3 linked regions of the Homo sapiens genome follow. The protein of the gene in region 2 purifies or fractionates together with the protein of the main gene of each other region. This does not show direct contact. Each region holds a gene or a part of one and is shown on either strand. Other genes may lie near its edges. The genes, in order: UBXN7, XKRX and SPRTN.

Evidence for each region.
Region 1: the proteins of XKRX (region 2) and UBXN7 purify together in Homo sapiens (affinity purification with mass spectrometry; one large-scale study listed by BioGRID and IntAct). This does not show direct contact.
Region 3: the proteins of XKRX (region 2) and SPRTN purify together in Homo sapiens (affinity purification with mass spectrometry; 2 studies listed by BioGRID and IntAct, with this or other methods). This does not show direct contact.

What each region holds. Positions count from the first base shown.
Region 1 is NC_000003.12:196,366,288-196,369,943, forward strand, and holds part of UBXN7 (UBX domain-containing protein 7), read right to left. Parts: intron 3,225-3,656; coding exon 3,134-3,224; intron 1,869-3,133; coding exon 1,741-1,868; intron 1-1,740. UniProt on the Homo sapiens protein: Ubiquitin-binding adapter that links a subset of NEDD8-associated cullin ring ligases (CRLs) to the segregase VCP/p97, to regulate turnover of their ubiquitination substrates.
Region 2 is NC_000023.11:100,918,886-100,922,541, reverse strand, and holds part of XKRX (XK-related protein 2), read left to right. Parts: exon of another isoform or gene 1-63; intron 64-3,656.
Region 3 is NC_000001.11:231,341,194-231,344,849, forward strand, and holds part of SPRTN (DNA-dependent metalloprotease SPRTN), read left to right. Parts: intron 1-3,656. UniProt on the Homo sapiens protein: DNA-dependent metalloendopeptidase that mediates the proteolytic cleavage of covalent DNA-protein cross-links (DPCs) during DNA synthesis, thereby playing a key role in maintaining genomic integrity.

The sequences.
Region 1 (3,656 bases), on a different chromosome or scaffold from region 2:
AGGAGAATTGCTTGAGCTTAGGAGTTTGAGATCAGGCTGAGTAACATATTGAGACCCTGCCTCCACAAAAAATAAAAAATTAGCCAGGCATGATGGTGCACACCTGTAGTCCTAGCTACTCAGGAGGCTGAGGCAAGAAGATTGACTGAGCCCAGGAGTTCAAGGCTAGCAAGTTTTTTTTTTTTTTAAAGTTCTCTCAAGGCTGCAAAGACTACAGTGAGTTAATATCATGCCACTGCAGTCCAGCCTGGGCAACAGTGTGAGACCACATCTCAAAAAATACAATACAATACAATAAATACAATACAATACAATAAAAATGTTGCTAGGTGTGGTGCTCACACCCAGAATCCCAACATTTTGGGAGGCTGAGGCGGGAGGATTGCTTGAGGCCAGTTTGAGACCAGCCTAGACAACATACGGAGGCCTCCGTCTCTACAAAACTTTAACAGCTTAGCTGGCATGGTGATGCACATCTGTGGTCCCAGCTACTTAGGAGGCTGAGGTGGAAGGATCGCTTGAGCCCAAGAGGTGGAGGCTGTAGCGAGCCATGATCACACCACTGCACTGCAGCCTGAGAAATGGAACAAGATCCTGCCCAAAGAAAAAAACAGGACGGGCGCGTTAGCTCACGCCTGTAATCCCAGCACTTTGGGAGGCCGAGAAGGGCGGATCACTTGAAGTCAGCAGTTTGAAACCAGCCTGCCCAACAAGGCGAAACCCCATCTCTACTAAAACTACAAAAATTAGCCAGATGCAGTGGTGTACGTCTGTAATCCCAGCTACTTGGGAGGCCAAGGCAGGAGAATCGCTTGAACCCAGGAGGCGAAGGTTGCAGTGAGCCAAGATCACACCACTGCCCTCTAGCCCTAGCAACAGAACAAGACTCTGGCTCAAAAAAAGGAAAAAAAAAAAACCAACAAAACAAAACTATTTTTATCCCTACTGCTATCAAAGCCAAACAGCCATGAAAACCAATGTGAGATTGCTGTATCTTTGCAAGTTCAGTCTCTTATTTGCAACCAATCTTGATACCAATTATCAAACATGTCTACCTAGTAATAGTATATTCTAGAAATTAAGTATAGAAGTAAATTCTAGGAGGGCCAGAGAGCCAGGCCCTAAAGCTATATTAACCAATAAAAATGCTCAACTATACCATGACAGTTGTTTCAGCAAAAACAAAAAACACCACTTCCAGCCGGCTGTGGTGGCATGTACCTGTAGTCCTAGCTATTCGGGCAGTTGAGGTGAGAAGGCTGCTTCAGCCCAGGAGTTCTAGGACAGTCTGGGCAAAACAGCAAGATCCCACTCCAAAACAAAAAACAAAACACACAAAAAAACCAACCACTTTCACTGCTATTTAGACCTGGATATCAGAAGCCCTCCCAGAGCTGCCCCTCAGGAAGTAGACACCTTTACCACTAGGCTTGCCAGGTCAGTCCTCCTGCCCAACCTATTCACATTGCTTCCTTCTAAATCCAGATCCTGGGGCATCTGCCTGCACTCTAGCTGCAAGACAGACTGGCAGGAGTATGAGTATCATGATTTCACCAAGAAGATGGAACTCTCATGTGGGAAATTATCAAAATATAAGGAGGATATCTAAGATGCTATAGCCACAGTGATAGTTGTCCACTAGTTAGATTATCTTTACCATCTTAACATCGAACATTTTATATAAGATGCTTATGACCAATTACATTTATTTTCCCATCACCACCTCCTAATTATACTTACTGAACGGGCACATTTTTTGGGGGGACTGCTAGAAAGTCCATCCAGTTGTCCATGTTCACCCAGAAATCCCGTCACTTGGTCCAAGAAAGAAGATACATCTAACTGGTGCCATTCTACTAGCTTCTGACCTAAGGATTAAAAACCAAGATCTATAAATAAATATAATATCTAGAATCCTTCTGAACATTCTCCAGGATCTATAAATATAATACCTAGAATCCTTCTGAACACTCTCATTAAGTATCTCTTTCAGCATATGCATAGATTAAAAACCTGGATCTATAAAGGTAATATCTAGAATCTTTCTGAACATTCTTATTAAGTATCTCTTTCAGCATATGCATAGATTAAAAACCAGGATCTATAAAGGTAATATCTAGAATCTTTCTGAACATTCTCATTATCTCTTTCAGCATATGCATACATTAAAAACCAGGATCTGTAAATATAATATCTAGGATCTTTCTGAACATTCTCATTAAGTATCTCTTTCAGCACATGCATAAAGTGTACTGTAAAGACATATCCTCTCCACCAGCTTATGCTACATAGTGTCTTCATAACCTAGAAGTCACATCAATTATACTCACCTAACAGATTCCCACCCGTAATGATAGGGCAACTATCTTATCTGCTGCTATCACTTACTGCCATTTAGGAAGAAGAGATTCAGACAAAGCAATATCTATATAAAACACCATCAATTAATAAAACCAGCTCCACCCTCTGCTTCTCAGGTGGGATTACAACTAGTATCTGGGCAATCTTAATATTTTAATGATAAAAAAAACTTTTGTCTTGTTTTGTTTTTTTGAGATGGAGTCTCACTCTGTTGCCCAGGCTGGAGTGCAGTGGCGCGATCTCGGCTCACTGCAACCTCCACCTCCCGGGTTCAGGCCATTCTCCTGCCTCAGCCTCCCAAGCAGCTGGGACTACAGGTGCCCGCCACCATGCCCGGCTAATTTTTTTTGTATTTTTAGTAGAGATGGGGTTTCACCGTGTTAGCCAGGATGGTCTGGATCGCCTGACCTCATGATCCGCCCACCTCGGCCTCCCAAAGTGCTGGGATTACAGGCATGAGCCACCACGCCCAGCTGGTAAAAAAACTTTTAAAAAATCCCTTAAAAAAGGTAAGATGAACATATCAGTTATTCTTCAAAAGAACAGAACTGCACAAACATAAAATACTACCATCTCCCAATGTTGCCAGAAAAAGATGTCCTAAATACATACATCAATAGATGTTTAAATAATTATAAAGGGAAAAAAACGAAACCTTCACCTAAATTACTGCAATTCTGAAAACAGATCCAGTCAAATATTAAAGATCAATCATTTAGGTAACTGAAAGACAAGTAATAGGTTAAAAGCTGCGTGCTGATATAAATCTTACCTGTCCGTGGGTCCAATATGGAAACATAGGGGAAATCCCCTAACTTATAAAACTGTATGTATCTCTGACCTTCCTCACTGTCATGATAAACCTGTTAAATCATTGATATAAAAAAAAAAGTCAGCCTCTAAGAAAAGAACCAACTATAACCTTCTTATACACCAACATCAATTAGCTCTCCAAATATACCTCCGGCCTATGTATTAAGATCTCACTCCTACACTAAAAAGAAAATAAATCTGGTTTGAACTCCTTCAACTTCCCACTTCCAGCACTCTCTGGAAATTTACCATAAACATATTGACCCATTCCTCCTCCTTTCCCAGTTCAGATGAGGTATTATTCTTCCTGCTCAAGTTATCTGTCAACTATGTCATTCATAACTCTCAACCATATACATCTTAATAAATCACAATATATTAAGATTATGGGCCAGGCATGGTGGCTCACGCCTGTAATCCCAGCACTTTAGGAGGCCGAGGCGAGTGGATCACAAGGTCAGGAGATTGAGACCATCCTGGCC
Region 2 (3,656 bases):
CTGGGAGATAGTTAAATAACTTGTGGAGTCAGACATCTCAAGCCTGCCAGATTTCTTAAACAGGTAAGCTGTTTAGACTAAAAATGTCACAGATAAACCTTCTCTGGGCCCAGAAGAAGCTAGTAATACCAGCAGTCAGTAGGATATTTTCCCTTGCCCAAAATGTTTAAATTATGCTGTTGTTTTGTTTGTTTAAGGATGGCAGTCTTTAATAAGAGGTTCCCAAATAGTACTGATCATCAGAATCATGTGATGAGCTTCTTTTTGAAATTATATTCACTCCCCAGACTTGAATCAATCTTAATATGTATTTCTAAAAGGTACCCAGTTGATTTTGATCAGCCACATTTGGGAACCAATGATTTAATCATTTCTGCTAATGCCAGTGGAGAGAAAGAAAAGGAGCGTGGGCTGGGCACGGTGGTTCAAGCCTGTAATCCCAGCACTTTGGGAGGCCAAGGCGGGTGGATCACAAGGTCAGGAGATTGAGACCATCCTGGCTAACATGATGAAAACCCGTCTGTACTAAAAATACAAAAAATTAGCCGGGCGTGGTGGCAGGCGCCTGTAGTCCTAGCTACTCGGGAGGCTGAGGCAGGAGAATGGCGTGAACCTGGGAGGCGGAGCTTGCAGTGAGCCGAGATCGCGTCACTGCACTCCAGCCTGGGTGACAGAGCAAGACTCCGTCTCAAAAAAAAAAAAAAAAAAAAAAAAAAAGCGTGGGGTTAATACTAATGAGAGTCAGGCCTGGACCAAGTTCTGACCTTCACTGTGATCTTTGGAGGAAGTTACAAAGCAATCACTGACCTAATTTCCCACTTGTAGAAGAGGGATCCTGAAATGAGTAAGACCTCTAGCAGAAGATGAAATGTGAGTCAGTGTTTTCAAAGTTGAGATAAATTGTTGTTAATGAATTTTAACAGCCTGAGATTTGCTTCATCTGCTTGGGCAGGCACTGGTATAGGTGTGGGTACAGGTTTGGACCATTTCCTATTAGATTCTAACCCTGTTTGGCAAAGTCCCATGTCTCAAATAAGGTAAGGAGAAAATTTGCCCTCTTTTGTCTTTTTTCCCCACTCAGAATTGTTCTTGAAGTTCTGTTGGTCTTGAAGCTTTTCACATACATAGTAGTTTGAGGAGAAAACTCTTTGGAAATGATGATGCTTTTCCTTTAAATCATCTAATAAAAATAGGTGTACATTACGGCTGGGCATGATGGCTCACGCCTGTAATCCTAACACTTTGGGAGGCCAAGACAGGCGGATCACTTGAAGTTGGGAGTTCAAAACCAGCCTGGCCAACATGTTGAAACCCCATCTCTACTAAAAACACAAAAAAAATCAAGGATGGGCATGGTGGCTGATACCTGTAATCCCAGCACTTTGGGAAGCCGAGGCAGGTGGATCACCTGAGGTCAGGAGGTTGAGACCAGCCTGGCCTGGCGAAACTCTGTCTCTACTAAAAATACAAAAATTAGCCGGGTATGGTGGTGGATGCTTATAATCCCAGCTACTTGGGAGGCTGATGCATGAGAATCACTTGAACCTGGGAGCCGAGATCTCACCGTTGCACTCCAGCCTGGGCAACAGAGCGAGACTCTGTCTCAAAAAAAAATTCAGCCAGGCGTGGTGGTGGGTGCCTGTAATCCCAGCTACTTGGGAGGCTGAAGCAGGAGAATTGCTTGAACCTGGGAGGTGGAGGTTGCAGTGAGCTGAGACTGCACCACTGCACCCCAGCCTGGGCGACAGAGGGAGACTCCCGTCTCATAAATAAATAAATAAATAACAAAAGTAATACATGCACAAAATGACATATAAGTAATTGTATTTGCACAGAAAATTTCTGGAAACTATGCAAGAAACTACCTCTGCGGAGTGGGAATGAAAAGTCAGCAGTCTTACTTTTTAAAATTCTTCTGTATGGTTTGAAAATTTTTTTTGTGATCATGCATTACTAGTTTTGGTCTTTATCTTTTTTTAATTACAAAAGTCAGACATGGTTATAGTAAAAATTAAAAACCATACAGAATAGATATAAAATAGGAAACGTAATCTCACTCCCCAAAGATAACCTCTGTTAATCATCCAGTATATATCCTTCTGGACTTATTTTTACTATGTAAACATAAACATACATACAATATATATTGTACATGTTTTTGCCCCAAAATGGACTGTATGAAACATTCTGTCAACAAAGTATTTTTCAAAAGTACAGTATGCCAGTATGTCTTTTCTCAAGTTATTTATATATACATGTATAACAATAATAAATATATAATATACATTTCCTTTATATGAATTAGACTTTTTATTCTCCTAATTTTCTATTGATAGGATTCTATTGATTGTCTCAAAAAGGAAAAAAAAAGGTAGCACAACCTCCCCTAGTTATTTTTTCCCCTCATTACAACCTCCCTTCTCAGGACAGCTTTAGTTAAGTTCCCATGATGCTTTACTTCTGCAGATGTTTGGAGGCCATGAGTAAGGACTTCACACTGTGGAAGAAAGAGGGGCAGCAGGAGCCCTATGTCAGCCTCACAAATTTTAATTTTTCACAAAAAAGTTGTTTCCTAATTGCAAATTATGCCACAGTAAACATCTTTATAAATACCTGTGTACATGAATGAGACTTTGTAGGATAAATTTATAGCAGTAGAATTGCTGGGTGGAAGGATATGTATGTTTAAAATTTTATTGATATTGCCAAATAACTCTTCCAAAAAGATATATGAATTTATACTCTCACCAACAGTATACAAATGTGCCTGTTTCTGTTTCTTCATATCTTAAACTCAATATTCTTTATTTGTATAATTATAAAATAATTGGCTTTTAAAATAATTGACTTTTAAAATAATTCGCTTTCTTTGGTTATGAATGAAGCTGAGCATCTTTTTGTGTTTGGTCATTGTGTGTTCTGTGAATTGCTTGTTTATATATTTTACTCGCTTTTTCTAGTGGGTTGTCTTTTTCATATTAATTTTTAGGAGCTATTTACTTATTCTTGTTATTAATCCTTTCTCTGCTGTGAATATGTATGCATATATTTGTATAATTTTTTGCTTGTACATACACACATTTTAAATATGTATATACATGTCATACGTGTAATATGTGTGTGATATATTTAATATCCACAATACACTTTGTAGTATCTTCTGGCATTCTGAAGTATTACATTTTTATGTATTCAAATTCTTTATTGCTTTTAGATTTTGTGCCTTTCTTACAAAGGCCTATCACATCTCTCATCTGGTAGAACAATTTTCCCCAATCTTTTAAGTAGATTAATTTTCAAGATAATTTTTTAATTCATCCTACAAAAAACAAAGCAAAATAATAACAGCAAAAGAAAAAAACATTTCATTGAGATTCCGATTGAGATTTGCATCAAATTACTTAGGTTATTTTGGGAGAATTTACATCTTTATAGGATTGTTGGATTTCATATTGTGAAATGATAAATCTCTCCATTTTATTAAATATTTTAACATGTACCTCAGTAAAATTGTATAGTTTTCTTCAGTAAAGTTGTATAGTTTTCTTGCTATGAGTCTTACATTTTTATAAGGCTTACTTTCAGATGTTCTATCAGTTTTAAAATGACCTGATTTTCTAAGTAGCAGGATAGTATCCAGGTAAAGTAAACCCACC
Region 3 (3,656 bases), on a different chromosome or scaffold from region 2:
TGCTTACAGTAAAGACACACTTATTTTAAGTTTAAAAGGATGAGGAAAAGTAATCATCCAAACACTTAAAAGCAGAAAACTATTGTGGCTATAAGGTTGAGTACTCATTATCCAAAGTGGGACCAGAAGTGTTTCAGATTTTTTTTTTTTTTACTTTGGAATATTTGCATTATACTTACTGGTTGAGCTTCCCTAATCCAAAAGTCCCAAATCTGAAATGGCTTTAGTGAGCATTTCCTTAGAACTTAACCTTTAATCATCTTGTAAGTGCTCAAAAAGTTTTAGATTTTGGAGCATTTCAGATTTTGGATTGTCAAATTAGGGATGTTCAACCAGTATTAGTATCAGACTAAAGACTTCAAGGGAAGAAGTTTTACTAGAGGAAAAGTGGGATATTTTATAATAATAAAATAATCTATTAAGCAACAATACATAATCTCTCCAAAAGTAATAACATAACTTTAAATTTTATGAGGCATAAATTAGCAGAAGCAAAAAGAATATACAATCAGGCTGGGTGCGGTGGCTCACGCCCATAATCCCAGCACTTTGGGAAGCTGAGACAGGCGGATCACTTGAGGCCAGGAGTTTGAGACCAGCCTGACCAACATGGTGAAACCCCGTCTCTACTAAAAATACAAAAATTAGCTGCGTGTGGTGACACAGCCTGTAGTACCAGCTACTCAGGAGGCTGACGCACAAGAATCGCATGAACTCGGGAGGTGGAGGTTACAGTGAGCCGAGATCACACCACAGCACTACAGCCTGGGGTGACAGAGCAAGACCCTGTCTCACTACAGCCTCAACCTCCCAGGCCCAAGCAATCCTCCCGCCTCAGCCTCCCAAAGTGCTGGGATTACAGGTGTCAGCCAAGACACCCAGACTCATACTTGAAGAATGTTAACACAACCTTCTTAGTAACCCAATGAATAAGCGGAAAAAAATAATACACATTTTAAAAAGTTGAACAGCATGATTAACCAAATCAGCCTTAGAAGGAGCCCTAACTGGAAGAGTTGCTTAATGAATATGTATTGGGTAAATGATTACATAAACACATGAGAAAAAAATGTTTTTAAGTAGTGGGTGAGAAGAGAATGGGGAATGTATAATAGTATCAAGTGAGCATTTCCTGTTGGCAGAAAGTTACAAAATGACATTTTCGTCAATGACAGGCCCCATATATAACAGTGGTCCCATAAGATTATAAGACCATATTTTTATTTATTTATTTATTTTTATTTTTTGTTTTTTGAGATGGAGTTTTGCTCTTGTTGCCCAGGCTGGAGTGCAATGATATGATCTCGGCTCACTGCAGCCTCCGCCTCCCTGGTTCAAGGGATCCTCCTACCTCAGCCTCCCAAGTAGCTGCGATTAAAGGTGTGCGCCACCACGCCTGGCTGATTTTTGTATTTTTAGTAGAGGCGGGGTTTCACCATGTTGGCTGGTCTCAAACTCCTGACCCCAGGTGATCCTTCTGCCTCAGCCTCCCAAAGTGAATGGGATTACAGGTATGAGCCACCATGCCCGGCCAGGACTATATTTATTTATTTTTTTTTTGAGATGGAGTCTCGCTCTGTTGCCCAGGCTGGAGTACAGTGGCGCATCTCCACTCACTGCAAGCTCCGCCTCCCGGGTTCAGGCCATTCTCCTGCGTCAGCCTCCCACATAGCTGGGACTACAGGCACCCGCCACCATGCCAGGCCAATTTTTTGTATTTTTTTTACTAGAGACGGGGTTTCATCATGTTAGCCAGGATGGTCTCAATCTCCTGACCTCGTGATCCGCCCGACTCAGCCTCCCAAAGTGCTGGGATTACAGGCGTGAGCCACCACACCTGGCCAAGACTATATTTTTATTGTACCTTTTTTCTTCTTTATATTTAGTTGCACAAATACTTACCATTATGTTGCACTTGCCTACAGCATTCAGTACAGTAACATCCTGTGCAGGTTCGTTGCCTAGGAGCGGCAGGCTATACTCTATAGCCTAGGTATATATACTCTATAGCCTAGGTATATACACTCTATAGCCTAGGTATATATACTCTATAGCCTAGGTATATATACCCTATAGCCTAGGTATATATACTCTATAGCCTAGGTATATATACTCTATAGCCTAGGTGTGTGTATATATATATATATATTACATAGGCTATACCATTTAGGTTTGTGTAAGTACACTCTTAAGATGTTTGCACAATGACAAAATTGCCTAACAATGGATTTTTCAGAACATATCCCTGCCAAGTGAGGCACAACTGTAGTTACCTAAATCATAGAGAAGGGGGTTCAGAAAAGGAACAGACTTTATCTGGTTGAGGAGGTCAAGAAAAGCTTTATAACTGTACATTTTGTTACTACCATCACCACTCCTGCTGCTCACTATTGAGCACCTATTGTGTGTCAGACTTTGGACTAAACGTCGTCTTTACCACAGCCATGCAAAATGAGGATATCCCATTTTAGGGATGAGGAGCCACTTGGAGCCTGTCCCAGGTCTCATGCTGTGATTGTGGGTTTAGGTTCCAGTTTCCCTGACTCTAAGGCTCTTGTTCTGTCCCCTTTACCATTCAACTCATCACTCCTGCGATTAAAACATGGAGAGGTGAGCATTAAAGGACGAATTGTACTTTTGACAAGCAGAGATAGGACAGGAGGCTACTCTTGGCAGAAAGCATGGGAATAATGTGAACAAAAGTGAGTTCAGACAACTGGGGGCATATTTAGGACTAGAGGTAGTTCATTTTAACCCGATAGAACAGTCATGGAAAACAGAGGTATTTTGGGACTGTGTTGTGTATAGATCCTTGAATTAAGACTAAATATGGAAAATGATAGATATTTAAAAAGTTCAGTACCATTTTCAAGATGTTTTTTAATGTTTAATTAAATTGAACCAAAAATCAGGAACCTAAATTTGTTTCTCCTTTATGAGAATAGATCTTTATCATTGCTCTAATTTAGAACATTGAGAAACTTTTGCAGTACCTTTCTTGAATTTGAGTCTTCTTCGTTGAGCGGCATTTACTTGAAAAATAAAGTTCTGGCTGGGTACAGTGGCTCATGCACGTAATCAGATAGATGGATTGCTTGAGCCCAGGAGTTGACCTGTCTGGGTAAGATGGTGAGACCTTGTCTCTACAAAAAATTGAAAAAAAATTAGCCAGGTGTGGTGACATGCGCCTGTAATCCCAGCTGCTCAGGAGGATGAGATAGAGGGATCCCTTGATGCCAGGAATTTGAGGCTGCAGTGAAATATAATCATGCCACTGCACTCCAGTCTGGGTGAAAAAGTGAGACCCCATCTCTGAGAAATAATAAGATAAATAAATAAAGTTCCTTTTAAGAGATACAGTTGATAATTTTTAGAGGGATATATGAATGACCAAGTTAAAATGTTTGATTCTCTCATTTTTCTGTTCAGCATAATTTTATAAGACTAAAATTCATTAATGACAGTCTAGTTCTTCTGATGGAAATTGTTTTTTAAAAAAATTATGGAGGATCATGAAAAAGGTATGTCTTTGAAGATCTTTCTGATTTTTGCTTAAAAAAATTATTTATATTTTTTAGAGCAAAAACCCCAGCAATCTTAAATGCTTTTGTTAATTTTGCACAGAAACTTGTGCATCTTTGGTGTGGAATGAGCAG